Linked DNA regions of Homo sapiens. The protein of the gene in region 2 purifies or fractionates together with the protein of the main gene of each other region. This does not show direct contact. Each region holds a gene or a part of one and is shown on either strand. Other genes may lie near its edges.

What was found. Proteins that work in one complex are often made in the same cells at the same time.
Region 1: the proteins of KLK10 (region 2) and EDC3 purify together in Homo sapiens (affinity purification with mass spectrometry; 3 studies listed by BioGRID and IntAct, with this or other methods). This does not show direct contact.

What each region holds. Positions count from the first base shown.
Region 1 is NC_000015.10:74,686,015-74,693,048, forward strand, and holds part of EDC3 (enhancer of mRNA-decapping protein 3), read right to left. Parts: intron 7,005-7,034; exon of another isoform or gene 6,872-7,004; intron 1,166-6,871; exon of another isoform or gene 1,077-1,165; intron 1-1,076. UniProt on the Homo sapiens protein: Binds single-stranded RNA. Involved in the process of mRNA degradation and in the positive regulation of mRNA decapping. May play a role in spermiogenesis and oogenesis.
Region 2 is NC_000019.10:51,012,228-51,016,732, forward strand, and holds the end of KLK10 (kallikrein-10 preproprotein), read right to left. Parts: intron 3,930-4,505; coding exon 3,655-3,929; intron 3,324-3,654; coding exon 3,190-3,323; intron 2,726-3,189; coding exon 2,573-2,725; 3' UTR 512-2,572; downstream 1-511. UniProt on the Homo sapiens protein: Has a tumor-suppressor role for NES1 in breast and prostate cancer.

The DNA of each region.
Region 1 (7,034 bases), on a different chromosome or scaffold from region 2:
AAACCCCATATCTACTAAAAATACAAAATTGGCCGGGCGCAGTGGCTCACGCCTGTAATCCCAGCACTTTGGAAGGCTGAGGCAGGTGGATCACAAGGTCAGGAGTTCGAGACCAGCCTGACCAACAAGGTGAAACCCCATCTCTACTAAAAATACAAAAATTAGCCAAATGCGGTGGCATGTTCCTGTAATCCCAGTTACTCAGGAGGCTGAAGCAGGAGAATCGCTTGAACCCGGGAGGCGGAGGATGCAGTGGGCTGAGATCGTGCCATTGCACTCCAGCCTGGGCAACGAGAACAAGACTCGGTCTCAAAAAAAAAAAATTAGCCGGGCATGGTGGTGCATGCCTGTAATCCCAGCTACTTGGGAGGCTGAGGCAGGGGAGTCACTTGAAATTGGGAGGCGAAGGTTGCAGTGAGCTGAGATCACACCATTGCACTCCAGCCTGGGCAACAAGAACAAGACTCCATCTCAAAAAAAATTAAATAGGCCAGCCACGGTGGCTCACTCCTATAATCCCAGCACTTTCAGAGGCCGAGGCAGGTGGATCACCTGAGGAGTTTGAGACCAGCCTGGCCAACATGGTGAAACCCCATCTCTACTAAAAATACAAAAATTAGCCAGGTGTGGTGGTGGGTGCCTGTAATCCCAGCTATTTAGGAGGCTGAGGTGGGAAAACCACTTGAACCCAAGACGCAGAGGATACAGTGAGCAGAAATTGCGCCACTGCACTCCAGCCTGCTAACAAGAGCAAGACTTTGTCTCAAAATAAATACATAAATGAAGGGAAAGGGGCAAAAAAGCATATACAGCACTCCTCCAGGCCAGCCGCAATGGCTCACGCCTATAATCCCAGCACTTTGGGAGGCCGACGTGGACGGCATGGTGGCATGCACCTGTAATCCCAGCTACTCAGGAGGCTGACAGGATAACTGCTTGAACCCAAGAGGCGGAGCCTGCAGTGAGCCGACACCGCACCACTGCACTCCAGCCTGGGCAACAGAGCAAGACTCCGTCTAGAAAAAAATAAAAAATAAATAAAAATAAAGCACTCCTGGCTGGGTGCAGTGGCTCACAGTTGTAATTCCAGGAGTTTGGGAAGCCAAGGCAGGAGCATCACTTGAGTCCAGGAATTCAAGACCAGGCTGGGCAACACAGCAAGACCCTGTCTCAAAAAAAAAAACAAAAAACAGTATGCCCCATTAGAAACACTAAGTCTGAAAGAGTCCAGCTCTAGGGATTAATCAAACTCTAGATAGTTCTCTAGTGATCTAACTGAGCCAGTATCATAAAACTATGCGGACAGAACCGAAGATTAAAAGAACAATGAATTAGCAGGCTCATACAGGCTTTTTTTTGTTACATTTATTATAGAATGAAACAGAGCCTTGCTCTGTCGCCCAGGCTAGAGTGCAGTGGCGCAATCTTGGCTCACTGCAACTTCTGCCTCCCAGGTTCAATCAGGCAATTCTCCTTCCTCAGCCTCCTGAGTAGCTGGGACTACAGGCGCCCGCCACCACACCCAGCTAATTTTTGTATTTTTAGTAGAGATGGGGTTTCACCATGTTGGCCAGACTGATCTCGAACTCCTGCCTTCTGGTGATCTGCTCACCTCAGCCTCTGCACTAGGATTACAGGCATGAGCCACTGTGCCTGGCCCTTGGGTAAATTTTCAATGCAACACAATTTCAACAATAATGATGATGGTAAAAAAGCACAAAATACACACATTTTAGGCTTCTTTTCCCTTCCTGATCAACCTTTGCCTAATGTCACAAAAGCATGAGTTTCCTTTCCTATCATTTATAATCCATCATAATTCTACTCAGATGCTTAGATAGATGCAGAATAAAAAGCACCAGAAATTAACCAGATATGAAAAGGCTTTTACTGTTTTATTTAACATATATCTTTAAGACACTGATGTTGTGCATTCAAGTTTATATTATGGTAGTAGTAACTGAATAGAATTTTTAACACTTTGAAAATGTGGATACTCGTTTATAAGTGTTCTTCTATGTAGTTAATATTAATAGAAACTTTTAAAAATATAACCACTGAATGTGTAACAAACTTCCCTTTCCTCAGAAACTTCCCTTGGTAAAATAGCATTATTCAAAACTCCTCAAACAGGTTTATTCTATAAAGAAAATTATGCTATTTACAGAAAACAGTAAATCTAAAACAAGTACAGTGCCCATCAACTGGGTTCCTAATCGGACTAGGGAAGGGGCTCCATCAATTATACAGCTAACACCTCCACGTCAAAAGAAGTACAGGAGATACAGGAGCTACAAGGAACCAATCTTGTCTTTTATTTTCTACTTTTCTATCAAGGTATAACATATACAGTAAGTCAGTCTACATATTTTAAGTGTACACCTCCCTGAAATTTTACATATCAATTCACCCATGTGACCACCACTCAAAACAAGACAGACTATTTCCAACACCTCAAAAGGCTCCATTGTGTCCTCCTACAGGTAGTTATTATTCTGACATCTATCATGAAAGATTATTTGAGCCTGATTTTGAGCTTCACATAAACAGAATCATAAAGGTTCTCTTTCAGAGTGTTTGTCTTCTTTTGCTCAAAAGTACATCTGTGAGGCCAGGCATGGTGGCTCATGCCTGTAATCCCAGCACTTTGGGAGGCCACGGCGGGTGGATCACTTGAGGTCAAGAGTTCAATACCAATCTAGCCAACATGGCAAAACCCTGTCTCTACTAAAAATACAAAAAATTAGCTGGGCGTGGTGGCACATGCCTGTAATCCCAGCTACTCAGGAGGCTGAGGCACAAGAATCGCTTGAACTGGGGAGGCGGAGGTTGCAGTGAGCCAAGATCCTGCTACTGCACTCCAGTATGGGTGACAGAGCGAGATGCTGTCTCAAAAAAAAAAAAAAAAAAAGTACATTTGTGAGATTCATCCCCATTGTTGCATGTATCAGAAGTTTATTCTTTCTCATAGCTGTGCTGTTTTCTGTAAGCATGCCTCAATGTATTTATCCATTCTACTGCTGATACATAGTTGGGTTATTTCTAGTTCTGACTTATTACAAATAATATTCTTAAACTGTATACAGTATATTTCTGCGATGGACAAATACATCCATTTCTACTGGGCATATAACACAGGAAGTCATGTTATATTTATGACTTTATTAGGAACCACTGAACAGTTTTCCAAAGTGGTTGTACCATTTTGTATTACCATCTACATTTATACAACCCACCATACGTGAGTTCTTTCTGCTCCTCATCTTGCCAAAACTTGGTACTATTGTTCTCTTCAACTTACTCATTCTGGTGGGGTGCAATGGTTTTGGTATTTTCTTAAACATACTTCTTATTTACTCTTGCTTCATTGATACTGTTATTCTCCCAATAAATTATTCCTAAAATTGTAATGACTACTGAATTCAGAGATGTTGTGAATTACTATTCAGTCAAGAACTTGCTACCAAAGTTCATTTAGTCTTATTTGTCTTCCTTCTCCCTCCATTTCTTTTTTTTTTTTCTTTTTTTGAGACGGAGTCTCGCTCTTTCGCCCAGGCCGGACTGCAGTGGCACTATCTCAGCTCACTGCAAGCTCCGCCTCCTGGGTTCACACCATCCTCCCGCCTCAGCCTCCTGAGTAGCTGGGACTACAGGTGCCCGCCACCGCGCCCGGCTAATTTTTTGTATTTTTAGTGGAGATGGGGTTTCACCGTGTTAGCCAGGATGGTCTCGATCTCCTGACCTCATGATCCGCCCGCCTCGGCCTCCCAAAGTGCTGGGATTACAGGCGTGAGCCACTGCGCCCGGCCCTGCCTCCATTTCTTAAACACCTCCAGGTAAGAATACTTTAATTCATTTACCACTTTGTTCTTATACAAATAAACAAGTTGCCAATTACAAATCTAGCTACTTTGGAATATCCTTCATCTCATTAATACATTACTAGTGTAAGTTTGCTGACAGGATTTGATGTACAATAAAAAAAAATACATCTTCCCTGTAAAGCCTATTCATGACAATAAATCCTTCAAACAATTCCACTTCTAAAAAAAACTAATTTTTCTGTGTAGTATTCAACAATGTTAAATATTTCAAAAAAATGCAATGTTTGTGCAGCTAGCTAACCAACACTTATTTTGCCAACTTGTTATTAAAATCTATCCTAACAATCTGTGTAGCTAGGAAGGGAGCCACAGATGTGACATAATCAAGATTTTCCAGATTACTTTTAATTATGGGACTATTTTGCTCAAATGCTGAACTATCAGGATTTCCAGACTACTGAATGCCAGATAAGTAATGGGACTTTATCATTATTCTGATAAGCCTTTGGATAACAAAGTCAGGTAGCGCTAAACACTCTTCCATCTATTATATTACTAAGGCAGCGCCCAAATGATCCATAAATTACAAATAAACAAGTTGCCAATTACAAATCTAGCTACCTCCATCTCTGTGCCACATCAGACAACTCACAGCATTCAGATCCAATAAACAACCCTTGGCCTGCTAAAAACAATTATAATTAACAGCTGTGGATGAGTGAGTAGTTATAGATTTCTGAAAAACTAGGAATTGTTCCACACAACAGGAAAGGTGTTTGTTTAATCAAAATATTGGGAAAGGCAGAGATCTTAAAAGAAAATATGCAACCCAGCATGATGGCTCAGGCCCTACATCCCAGCACTTTGGGAGGCTGAGGCAGGAGGATCACTTGAGGCCAGGAGTTTCAGACCAGCCTGGACAACATAGCAAGACTGTTTCCACCCCCACCCCGCCTCAGAAAAAGAAATCCAGCACAATCCCCTATCTAAATCCAGTACTAAACCCATATCTTCCATAAAAGGCAGCACGGTGAAAAGAGAATAAAATTCTGAAATCACACTGGGTGTGGTGGCTCACGCCTCAGGTGGCTAGTGTCTGCAATCCTAGCACTGTGGGAGGCCAAGGAGGGCTGACCGCTTGAGCCTAGGAGTTCAAAGCCAGCCTGGGCAACATGGCAAAACTCTGTCTCTAGAAAAAATACAAAAAATTAGTCAGAAGTGTTGGGAGGCGGAGGTTGCAGTGAGCCAAGATTGCACCACTGCACTCCAGCCTGGGTGGCAGAGCAAGACCCTGTCTCAAAAAAAAAAAAAAAGAAAAAAATGAAATCAGACATCACAGCCCCTGGTTCACTTCTGAACTTCCTTACTAACCAGCACTACGACCTGGGCAAATTACCTAATCTGAGTCTCAACTGCCTCATCTGTAGGGAATTATGCCAATTATACACCTATCTCATAGAACCACTATATGAATTATTTTAAGATACTATATGGATTATTTTAAGATACTATATGGATTATTTTAAGATTAAATGAGATAATCCATATAGTGTCTACAACATAAAAAATTTTAGTTCAAATGTCTCCTTTTGCCAGAAAGAATACCGATCACATAGGGAACTTAAGTTATGGCGCTGTGAGGGCCACCTCACTTCTCACCCAAACAAAATTACAAAAATACATGAATTCCCTCTACAACATCTTGGAAATCAAGTCCTGGTCTTTACACTGGAATACACATGTCCGTAGGGGGTACACAAAGATATGCAAGCAAGGGAATCAACTTCCATGCTACTCTCATAAACCTGATCTGTGTGGATAACTAGATGATCAATTTTAAATTTTCAGGCATAAAATTTATTACTTTAGGATGGGTAGGAAAACTACAGCCCTAAACCAGATCTGGTCTGCTACCAATAAAGTTTTATTGGAACACAACTACACAAAAATACTTGCATATTATCTACGGCTATTTTCTGGGTTTTTTTGGGTTTTTTTGAGACAGTCTTGCTCTGTCGTCCAGGCTGGAGTGCAGTGGAGCGATCTCGGCTCACTGCAACCTCCACCTCCCGGGTTCAAGCGATTCTCCTGCCTCAGCCTCCCAAGTAGCTGGGACTACAGGCGCCCACCAACACGCCCGGCTAATTTTTTTTGTATTTTTTAGTAGAGGCGGGGTTTCACTGTGTTAGCCAGGATGGTCTCGATCTCCTGACCTCGTGATCCGCCTGCCTCAGTCTCCCAAAGTGATGGGATTACAGGCGTGAGCCACCGCACCCGGCCACATATTGTCTATGGCTGTTTTCTCACTACAGTGAGAATTAAGCAGTAATCACAGAAACCATGTGGCCCATAAAGCCTTTCATCTGGCCTTTGACAGAAAGTTGACTTTTGCTTTAGGATAAAATTCTGTGGGAAAAGTGGAATGGATACAAGTTCAAAAAGAAAAAGGAAAAATATGTAATGGACAAACTCCCAAAATGATAAAAATGACCAAAACTAACTCAACTAACTATATTAAGAAATTGAATTAGTAAAATCTTCCCAGAGAGAAAAACCCAGGCCCATAGGACTTCACTGGTAAATTCTATGAAACACGTAAGAAATAATACCAATCCTACACAAACTATTTCAGAAAACAGAGGAGGAAGGAACACTTCCCAATTCATTTTATGAGGTCATAATTACCCTGCTACTAAGGCCAAAGATGACATAAAAAAAAGGAAACCTCAGACCAATATCCATCATGAACACAGTCACAAAAATTAACAAAATGTTAGCAAATTGAATCCATCTATATGTAAAAAGTAGTAGATACATTACTAAGCAGGGTTCATTTCACAAATGCAAGATGGGTTTAACATCTGAAAATCAAGTAATGTAATAAGCTATGTTATGTATTTCTTACAGTCTTTGTTTCAAAAGTTTAGTTGTATGTTTTTACAACATCAAATTGATATTGTATTTAGGTAATTTTATATTTATTTTTAAGAAGTCAATATTTACTTGTCAGAAATTACATCCTAAACTATTTAAAATTAAATACTTACACTATGTAAATCTAGGATGAAAAGTTTCAGGTGCCAACTTAAAAGTATATAAGATCTAACAGATTCCACAGTCTTTTAGACATTCTCAAGAAGAAATGTTTTAAGACTAGTGACCCAGCCTATACCTGAAAGCCTGAAATGACAAGGAGAAAAATAATCATTC
Region 2 (4,505 bases):
TTAAACTCCTGAGCTCAAGCATTCCACCCATCTCAGCCTCCTAAAGTTCTGGGATTATAGGAGTGAGCCACTGCGCCCAGCCTATCTCATTTAACTCTCACGGGAGTCTAATTAAGCAGGTGTCTCCATTTCACAGAGTGAAAACTGAGGAAGAGACAGCATTCAAGTAATTTGCTCAAAGTCATACAGCAAAGTGATTGAAATGCATTTCCTTCTCTACCTGGTGAACTCCTACTTATCCTTTAAACTCCTGCACAAATGTCCCCTCATTGAGAAGCCTTTCCTGACTCCTTCAGGCACAGCCTGTGGACTTGGTGTGGTGCACCCCATACCCCCTTCTGTTACAGCACTGATCTATTTGTGTTATGTGTTCACACAGCAACGGGGGTGACTTCTGTGTGCCGGGCACAATACAGGAGCTTAGAAAATCACAGTGAACAAATATCTGAATCACTGCCCTCACGGAATTTGTGGGGAAGGGTGACATAGACCATTATCAAGTAAACACAAATGAGATAATTTCAGGTATAATAGGTGCTATTAAAAAAAAAAACAAACAAACAAAAAACAGAGCATCGGGACTGGATGACCAAAAGTGGACTCCTATAGCCTGGGCAATTCAGGAAGGCCTCCCGGAGGAGGTGACTTTTGAGTGGAGACCTGAATGACAGGAATGTAAGACTGGCCTGTCTCCCTGACCTAACTAGCAGCTCCTTGAGGGTAGTGCCTGGTCTGATTCATCTTTGAGGCCTGGCATAAGACGTGGCTCGATAAACATTGTGGAGTGACTAAAGGGACGGGTGAGTTGCCTTTAATAATGAATCGAGTTTTCAAGTTTCCACCGACCTCGCTTCTGGTCTTTGGATGACAAACCCAGCTGATACGCCTGTCTGACATTTCCTGCGTGTGCTAATGGGGGCAGAATGGGAAAGAGGCCACGGAAGGGAGCTGTGTGCTCAGACCTTGTACATCAACCTCCTGTGGGCTCTGCAGGGTGGGGGACCTTGTGATCACCCCTACGTATGTCCCCAGCACCCAGCACTGGGCCTGGCACATAATAGATGCTCCATAAATTGGTAACTGAAAGGACAAACAAACAAACAAAAACCCCGTGCTTAATGGGAAATTTCTGTTGTGCCTATATTCAGCTAGCTTATGTTACTGCTTCAAAGTTCAGGATAAGCTGAGACACTCAAACTTCTTCTTTTTTTGAGATGGAGTTTTGCTCTTTTGTCCAGGCTGGATGGAGTGCAATGGTGCAATCTTGGCTCACTGCAACCTCTGCCCCCCGGGTTCAAGTGATTCTTCTGCCTCAGCCTCCCAAGTAGATGGGATTATAGGTGCCTGCCACCATGCCTGGCTAGTTTTTGTATTTTCAGTAGAGATGGGATTTCACCATTTTGGCCAGACTGGTCTCGAACACCTGACCTCAGATGATCTGCTTTCCTCGGCCTCCCAAAGTGCTAGGATTACAGGCGTGAGCCACCACACCCAGCGGACACTGAAGCTTCTATTAGCCTTACCTGGATTCTGTGTATTAACTCCCCTTCCCTCCCCCAATTTCAGGGAGAATCAAACAATTCCTCCTCCCAAGTTTTCAGGACGAAAATCTCACAGCCAATTAATAACAGACAAACCAAAGATTTTCCCCTAAATGTCAGAGGGAGGTTTCTTGGCACAAGCTGGGCAGTTGAGGTGGCAAGGGTTTCCCAATCTTCACTACCCCCTCGGCCCTCTGGTCTTAGAGGCTGGGATAGAAGCAAGGTGAGGTCCCTTGAGTTCAGTGGCCTCATGAAGGCAGAGAAGGTGCTAATGACTCAGGGCCAGCCTAGCTCGGAGGAACTGGTGTTGGGTGGAACCAGAAGTGGGAAACAGTGGGAGATGAGAAGGAAGTGGTTAAAAGGTGTTTCCTGGGACTTGGAACTAGGGTGAGGAAAATGATTCTTCCATCATCCCTAAGGGTTGGGGATGGAAGGTTGGGACTGGGGGCTACCCTGTGCACTTCTTCCCTGGACACACGCTTTCACCGGGACGTGGTCAGATCACGACAACAGGTAACCTTTAGTCAGAACTCACCACCCACTGTGTTAAGCCTTACATGACAATCACCATGAAGATTTACATACACATGTTATATCATAGTCTCCTCACAACATGTCTAAGAGGTAGGCACGTCATTGTTCCCATTTTGCAGATGAGGAAACTGAGGTTCAGAGAGGGCACTTGGCTTGCCCAAAGTCACACAGCAGGGAGTGGCAGAGGAAGTCAGGTTGGGTGACCCCAGTAACTGCTCTCAGAGGCTGGGTGATGACCGGCTTCCTGGCTTCTCTGGAATAAACCTTTGCCACCACTTCCTGCATTTCAGCTTCAGTACAGGCAGAGAATGGGGATAGGTGGGGGAATGAGGTGAGAGGGGAGATGTTTAGAGGTGTGGAGGGCGGCAGAGGTTTGAACAGTGCAGACAAGGGGAGAGTTCAGCCGACTGGGGAGGAAGAGGATGGACGATGGAGCCTCTGGGCATCTGGATCAGCAGGAGCATAACATCTGGATCAGCTGGAGCGTAGCATCTGGATCAGTTGGAGCGTATGACTTTATTGATCCAGGACATGTATTTGCAGATCTGGGTGTAGACAGCTGGATGCTGGGCAGAGCCACAGGGGTAAACACCCCACGAGAGGATGCCTTGGAGGGTCTCGTCACAGACCAGGGGGCCTCCAGAGTCACTCTGGGGGTGGCAGGAAGGAGAGATCAAATAAATGTGCCAACGTGAGAGCTGTCACTTTGGGATCTGGGGCAGTGGTGGGGAAGGAAGGAGTTGGGTTGGGATAAAGACGAGGATGGGATGGGGTTGGAATTAGGTATGAGCTGGAAGGTAGGAATGGAGGTGGACTTCAGGTTATGGGAGGTTGGGCTGGGGGATGAGAATGAAGGCACAGTGAGACTGGGGTTGGGATTGTAGTTCATGGAAGGTGAGGGGATGAAAATGGGCTTGGAGATGGGAATGGGGTGGGGTTGGGATGGAAATGGGATTGAGGATAGGGATGAGGAGGGGGTTAGGTCTGGGTAAGAGTTGGGGTCAAGGATGGGTTTGGGAATGGAGTTGGGGATCGGGCACAGGGTCTGCTCTTTTCCCATAACCTCCCTGTCCTCCCTCCCAGGAGTCAGAGACTCTCCCTGTTCAGACCCTACCTGGCAAGGGTCCTGGCCCCGGTCCAGTCCAGCACATATCATGTTGTTGGTGACCACGCCAGGGTAGAAGACCTCACACTCTTTAGGGCTCAGGATAGTGATGCTGGAGCAGGTCAGGCCCTTGTTGTACTTCACTGAAGGGAGAATATGCCAGTAATCCCTGGGTCCAGCCCCCAATCCTTGGGGAGCCAGGAGTCCAGATACAAGACCGTTTCTATCCTAAGCCCCAGCCCCTCCTCCTTCAGACTCAAGAATCCTGGCCCCAGCCCCTCCCCACTTAGACCCAGGAGTCCAGGCCCCCAGCCCCTCCTCCCCTCAGACTCACAGACCCAGGCATCTAGGACCCCAGCCCGTCCTCCCTCAGATCCAGGAATCCAGTCCCCAGCCCATCCTTCCTCAGACCCAGGGGTTCAGGCCCTCAGCCCCCTCCTCCTGAGGTTCCGGCCTCAGAGCCCCAGCTCTTGCCTCTCCGGGCGGCCGTGGTGCCCCAGCCAGCAACCTGGCACTGGTCTCCGGGCTGAGCACAGCGGTAGGGAAGCTGCAGGGCCCGGACGCGGGGCCCCAGCACTACGGGCCTGGCCAGCTTCAGCAACATGAGATCGTGCTCATCCGTTCGCCTTGGCAGGATGGGGCCTGAGCCCTGGTGGTACTTGGGATGGACAACAGAGCGAGTGGTCCGGCGGAGCTGCTCTCCCTGAAGAAGCAGCAGGTGGTCATCCCCTACTCGAGCCCACAGTGGCCTGGGGGAAGGAAGAGGCATGTGAAGGCAAACCCTTCATAGGGACTGGGAAAGCAGGTGGGCAGTGACGCAGGGCCTGGAGATAGGAAGAGTCTGAGGGAAGAGGGCCTTGTGGGAGAAGGGGACCTCAGTGGACATGGGGAGGAGGAATCAGTTGTTTGAGCTCTGAGGATCTGTAGGAATTGAGGAGGGCTGGGGGCCTGGACACCTAGGTAAGCCTTCCACATTTTCTTTTCTCTTTTTCTTTTCTTTGTTGAAACAGAGTTTCGCTCTTGTCACCCAGGCTAGAATGCAATGGCGCAATCTCGGCTCACTGCAACCTCCACCTCCCAGGTTCAAGCAGTTCTCCTGCCTCAGCCTCCTTCCTGAGTAGCTGGGATTACAGGCACCCACCACCACACCCAGCCTTTTTTTTTTTTTAATTTTTTTAAAATTTTTTATTTTTTATTTTATTTTATTTTTAGTTGAGAAGTGGTTTCACCATGTTGGCCAGGCTGGTCTTGAACTCCTGACCTCAGGTGATCCACCCGCCTTGGCCTCCCAAAGTGCTGGGATTACAGGCGTGAGCCACCGAGCC